Linked DNA regions of Homo sapiens: region 2 is linked to region 1. Evidence: fine-mapped expression QTL. A gene starts in region 1. The other region holds a variant in brackets. All regions are shown on one strand. Distances are from middle to middle. Region 1 holds the start of HCST (hematopoietic cell signal transducer). Region 2 holds the start of POLR2I (RNA polymerase II subunit I).

What was found.
Region 2: its variant is fine-mapped to the expression of HCST in ovary (GTEx, PIP above 0.99).

What each region holds. Positions count from the first base shown.
Region 1 is chr19:35,901,203-35,904,100 of GRCh38, forward strand. It overlaps HCST (hematopoietic cell signal transducer), which reads left to right and starts at 1,327. Exons shown (of 4, transcript NM_014266.4): 1 at 1,327-1,434; 2 at 2,149-2,214; 3 at 2,570-2,701. The coding sequence starts at 1,392. It also overlaps a transcript of NFKBID not described here.
Region 2 is chr19:36,113,504-36,116,401 of GRCh38, forward strand. OVOL3 (ovo like zinc finger 3) reads left to right here. Exons shown (of 4, transcript NM_001302757.2): 4 at 1-208. The coding sequence ends at 158. It overlaps POLR2I (RNA polymerase II subunit I), which reads right to left and starts at 1,372. Exons shown (of 6, transcript NM_006233.5): 1 at 1,295-1,372; 2 at 1,156-1,210; 3 at 836-909; 4 at 674-748; 5 at 512-563; 6 at 206-314. The coding sequence starts at 1,353. The coding sequence ends at 252. It overlaps TBCB (tubulin folding cofactor B), which reads left to right and starts at 1,965. Exons shown (of 6, transcript NM_001281.3): 1 at 1,965-2,171; 2 at 2,538-2,681. The coding sequence starts at 2,058. RefSeq lists enhancers at 356-867, 886-1,015, 2,606-2,695 and a silencer at 2,206-2,295. The variant G/T (reference allele first, on the strand shown) is at 1,470.

The DNA of each region.
Region 1 (2,898 bases):
GGTAGGGGTAGGAGTGGGGATGGAGATGGGGTGGGGGCAGGGAGAATATTACTGGGTCCAGAGGGAGGCAGGACTGGGGGTCTAGACTCCCAGAGGAAGGGTCTGTGGGTAAGGGTATAGGGTGTGGCTCAATTTCTCCCTCTCCCCTACATCACCCTTTTTAGAGGTCTGGTTTCATTTACTCATTCATCATTTAAAATAATTTATTGCAGCAGAGGAGGCATTTTGCTGTGTATTGTGAACTAAGCAGGCAGGAATTCCCAGCCCTGGAGCTGGCATTCCAGTGGGAGGCCACTCTCAGTTTCACTTGGTGACCTTTCACAGCACTGACCATGTTGGCCCTATTTCTCCCCTGCTTGCTTGCTTTTCTATTTTATTTTATTATTACATTTTTATTGTTAGAGAGAGGGTCTCATTCTGTCGCCCAGGCTGGAGTGCAGTGGCAAAGTGGTGAGATCTCGGCTCACTGCAACCTCCACTTGCCTCAGTCTCCCAAGTAGCTGGGATTACAGGAGCCTGACACCATGCCCGGGTAATTTTTGTATTTTTGTAGAGACGGGGTTTCACCATATTGGCTTGAACTCCTGATCTCAGGTGATCCCCCCACCTTGGCCTCCCAAAGTGCTGGGATTACAGGCATGAGCCACTGCGGTGGCCTCTCCCCTGCTTTCAAGATGCCATGCTCTCAGGGGTCCCCTCCCTCTTTCTCCATTTCCCTGGCAAAGTTCCTCCTCTTCCCCCATTCAGTGTGTGTTGTGATAGGGGCAGAATCCTGTCTGCACTCACTTCCTTGGTGATCTCACCCAGTCTTGTGGCTTTAAGTACCATCCATAAGCCATCAACCCCCAAATTTACATCTCCAGACCAGCCTTATCCCCTGAACTCCTAAATGCAGTGAGGTTATTCAGCATCTCCACAGGGAGATTGTCAGGCATTTCCAACCCTGTATGCCCAAACCTCGTCACTTTCCCCGCAAACCCACTTCCCTACCTTTCATCTCTGCCAGCAGACACTCCCATCTTCTCAGCGTTTCATGCCAGAAGGCTTGGCTGTCTAGGATCCCTCTCAAACACACCCACATTCATTTAATCAGCAAATTTTCTTGGCCCTACCTCCAAAATATTTCCAGATCTCCCTAGCCTGCACACCCTTGCCACCTGTCATTCCCACTTGGACCAGGCCAGCAGCCTCCCTGGTCTCTCTGACCCTCCCCCTGAGTTCGTTCACCAAAGGCAGTAACGGAGACACCCCCTCAACACACACAGGAAGCAGATGGCCTTGACACCAGCAGGGTGACATCCGCTATTGCTACTTCTCTGCTCCCCCACAGTTCCTCTGGACTTCTCTGGACCACAGTCCTCTGCCAGACCCCTGCCAGACCCCAGTCCACCATGATCCATCTGGGTCACATCCTCTTCCTGCTTTTGCTCCCAGGTGAAGCCAGTGGTTACAGGGGATGGTAGGCAGAGCGTTTGTGAGATGGGTGCTTGGGTGACGTCTGCAGGGACGGGTGATGAAAGTGGGGTTCTTCTCCCTGCACCCCTTCCCTTCTGGGAGATCCATTCTGCTTCAGGGCCTGGGTCCTTGGGGGCGGAAGGGGGTGAGACAGGGAGTTCTGGAGGGGCTGCCTGTTAGCGTCCCCTTCTCATGGCTGGGTCTCTGCTGCCACTTCCAATTTCTTGTCACTCTCCATGTCTCTGGGAGTCCCCTTCCCATGTGGTCCTGTTCCATCTCTCCAGCCTGGAGATTACTTCTCAGGACACTACCTTTCCTTCTCTACACCCTATTTTTTGGTTTGTTTATTTTGAGATGGGGTCTTGCTCTGTTGTCCAGGCTGGAGTGCAGTGGCACAATCACGGCTCACGGCAGCCTTGACTTCCTGGGCTCAGGTGATCCTCCCAGCTCAGCCTCCCGAGTAACTGGGATTACAGGTGTGAACCAACACTTCCAGCTAATTTTTGTATTTCTTGTAGAGACGAGGTCTCACTATGTTGCCCAGGCTGGTCTCGAACTCCTGGGCTCAAGCGATCTTCCTGCCTCGGCCTCCCAAAGTGCTGGGATGACAGGCGTGAGCCACGGTGCCAGGCTGAGCATTCTGTTTTGTGGACCTTCTCTCCACCCTCATCCACCTTCTTTCTCTTTCCACAGTGGCTGCAGCTCAGACGACTCCAGGAGAGAGATCATCACTCCCTGCCTTTTACCCTGGCACTTCAGGTATCACTTCCACCCCAGAAGCTTGGCCAGAGGCTCCCAGAACACCCCAGTGGTTCTCCAGGTCACCATCCCACCTCCCGTCCCCAAATCAGAGGATCCGTGTCCTTCTCCGAGTCCCAGAATCAGCGACCCCCAGCCTGTGTTCAGGAGCACCCCGTGTGCCCGCCGCACAGCCCCGAGGGTCCTGGGACACCCCAGCCTCTCTGCATCTGTCTCCCGTTTCATTCCCCAAGCGCAACTCCAAGGAACCTGGGACCCGCCCCCTCGCAGGGGACTTCCTCTCTGCCTGTGGCCAAAGCACAGCCCCAGGACGCAGAGCTTGAGTTGTCTCCCTGTTCCGGCCCCCACTCTCCAGGCTCTTGTTCCGGATGTGGGTCCCTCTCTCTGCCGCTCCTGGCAGGCCTCGTGGCTGCTGATGCGGTGGCATCGCTGCTCATCGTGGGGGCGGTGTTCCTGTGCGCACGCCCACGCCGCAGCCCCGCCCAAGGTGAGGGCGGAGATGGGCGGGGCCTGGAAGGTGTATAGTGTCCCTAGGGAGGGGGTCCCAGGGAGGGGGCCCTTGGGGAAGCCCTGGAGGAGGTGCTGGGGAAACCCTGGGGGAGGTGCCTGGGGGAACCCCTGAGGAAACCCCTGAAGCAGGGGGTCCCCAGGGAAGTGGAGATATGGGTGGTCAAGCTTCATGCT
Region 2 (2,898 bases), 210 kb after region 1:
GCTCCCTGGAAGCTCACCTTGCTAAGGTGCATGGACAGCCGGCCAGCTACGCTTACCGTGAGCGCCGCGAGAAGCTGCACGTGTGCGAGGACTGCGGCTTCACCAGCTCCCGGCCCGACACCTACGCACAGCACCGCGCCCTGCACCGCGCAGCCTGATACGGTGTGCCAGCGTCCTCCCCACGAGGCAAATAAACACAGAAAACTCACGCATGGAATCTGGTGTTTATTACACTCGGGGGAGAGAGGAGGTCACTCGGTCCAGCGGTGGCCGCAGTGTGGGGCTGTGCACACGTAGTAAAGGCGCATGGCGTCCTGGCAGAAATGATGCATGGTTAGGAAGGATTTGGACCCAGCAGCGCCTTACCCCAAAAGAACAGGCAAGAGAACTTCACCAATAGGTAAGGGCCCGGCAGAGTTCCAAGAAGCGCAGGGTCACCCACATTGATATCCCCGCCCCCAGAAAGGACCAAACAAGCCCCAGATACTTAGAAAGCCCTCGCGCCACTTACCTCGGCCCGCGCACTGTGTGACTGGAAGAACACAGCCTCCTTGTGGCCGCACCTGAGAGGGTAGGGGCTCGGTCACCGGAGGCTTCACACCCTTCCCTCCTCCCTTCGCCCAGTGAGGAGACGAGCCTCACTTTACCTCCCCAGTACCAGCTGAACGCTCACTTTTGGCACGGGTGGTCCTCGGTCCGCGGCAACGTGGGGTCCTGGGACACGTCGGCGATAATCTGGGTCAGTTCGCTGCAGGGACGCGGGGGTGCAAAATTACGCTCAGACCCAGCCTCCAGAGCCAACACCCCCGCCCCCAGCTCAGGGCCCGCCACTCACTCCACTTCGTGCGTGATCTTGTTGACATAGATGCAGCTGTTGTCGGCCTCCTGCTGGTAATCACAGTTCCGGCACTACGAGAGGGCGAGTGTGGGGGAAAGGGGGTCACGGAAGGATTCCAGACAAGATTGGGAGGAGAGGGCAGGGTGATCCCGGAGGATATGACGACAGGACTCTCTTTGGGGATGGGCAGGACATGAGAGTCAGGATCACTTGAGGTGCAGCGGAGGGCGAACAGGGAGTCCGATCACAGAGGCAGGGGGCAGGGCGGGGCCACGCTGGGAACAGGTGGACCTGCCGGGGAAGACCCCGGCGCTCACCGCGTAGAGCAGAATGCGGTTCTCCTTGTCTTCCTTGGGGTACAGCATGTTGTTACTGTGGGGAGGGGGAGGTGCCAGGGGTTAGTTCTGGAGCCATTCCTCGCCCGCCTTCTAACATCACCCGCTCCCTCCGCCTCACCATTCCTGGCAGAAGCGAATACCCACGAAGCCCGGCTCGTAAGTCCCGTCGGGCTCCATGGCGACGCGCAGCCCGCGCAGCCCTCCCAGCCTTCCGCGCTTGCTCCGCCGCGCTACAGGTCGCGGGAGGGGCCAGGCCTAGGTGCTTCGCCAAAAGAGGGCGGAGCTGCGCACAC[G/T]TGCTGGCTCCCCGCCGCCTCGGGCTCGGCTCTCTCCGCGCAGAGGTTTCATGGCTTGCTTCAATCTTTTGATATCTTAGAGTAATTGCTTCCAATTTTTGGGCATCGCCGCCTCAGTTTACAGAATAGTATGGATCTGGTGCCAGAGCCGGGAAAACGATGCGCATCGTAAACCGCAAAACACTGAGCATCCAGGACAGAAGCCAAGGCGCTTGGCTTGGTTGAAGGCCAGTGCGCATGCGCGAGTTTACCCTTCGCGGACTGGGCGAGCTCTTGCCACTCCTACCTCCGGGCTTCAGTCTTCGCCGCCTGTTCTGGTCCTTTCCCGGGCCGCTATTGGAAGAACCGTGAACTATGGAAGGCCCCTCTGGATTGGCTGGGCTGGCCCAAGAGTAAGGAGAGCCCTCTTCCTGGCGGTGGGGAAGGGACGGCGGCGATTGGCGGACGCTCCTGGCAGGAGAGCGCGGATTGGTCAGGCACGGAGCAGGAGGCGGGGCTGATAGCCCAGCAGCAGCAGCGGCGGCGGCGGCTGCGGAGCGGGTGTGAGGCGGCTGGACCGCGCTGCAGGCATCCGCAGGGCGCGGCAAGATGGAGGTGACGGGGGTGTCGGCACCCACGGTGACCGTTTTCATCAGCAGCTCCCTCAACACCTTCCGCTCCGAGAAGCGATACAGCCGCAGCCTCACCATCGCTGAGTTCAAGGTGTGGCCATGGGGGCGGGGTCCGGAGGGGCGGGGCGAAGAAATTGGGGGGTTCCCGGAAGGGGGAGGCTGGGAGGGGCCGGGGAGTGACTGGGCGGGCCCGGAGGTGATCCCAGGCTGCGGAGGCTGGGGACCCGGTCGCGGCGGGGCGGGTCCGGAGAGAACTCGAGAGTGCAGAGATGAGGGCCGGGTCCAGCGAAAAATCCGACGGTCCAGAGGGCGGGGGCAAGAGGCGAGGGGCTGGATTGCGGCCCCGTGCGTCCTGACTGGGGGGTCTTTTGGAGGAAAAGGGACGTGGCGATGGTCATTGATGCAAGGGGCGGGGCCTCCGTGGCCTCCTTCTTCTCACCCTGCCTCCTCCTCACAGTGTAAACTGGAGTTGCTGGTGGGCAGCCCTGCTTCCTGCATGGAACTGGAGCTGTATGGAGTTGACGACAAGTTCTACAGCAAGCTGGATCAAGAGGATGCGCTCCTGGGCTCCTACCCTGTAGATGACGGCTGCCGCATCCACGTGAGGACTCTCTATCTGGGACACTCCCCCACCCCACCTTTCATTTGGTTATTCAACAGACACTTGCTGGGCTTTGCCCTCAGTCATACCCGAGATAGGTCCTGCCTTCGTGGAGCCTCCAGTGCAGCCTGACGAGAGACAGACCCATCATTAGACAGGGACAGCCTAGAGTGGTCTGGGCTGGGATCAGGAAATCCCAGGGGACTGGAGCCACCAA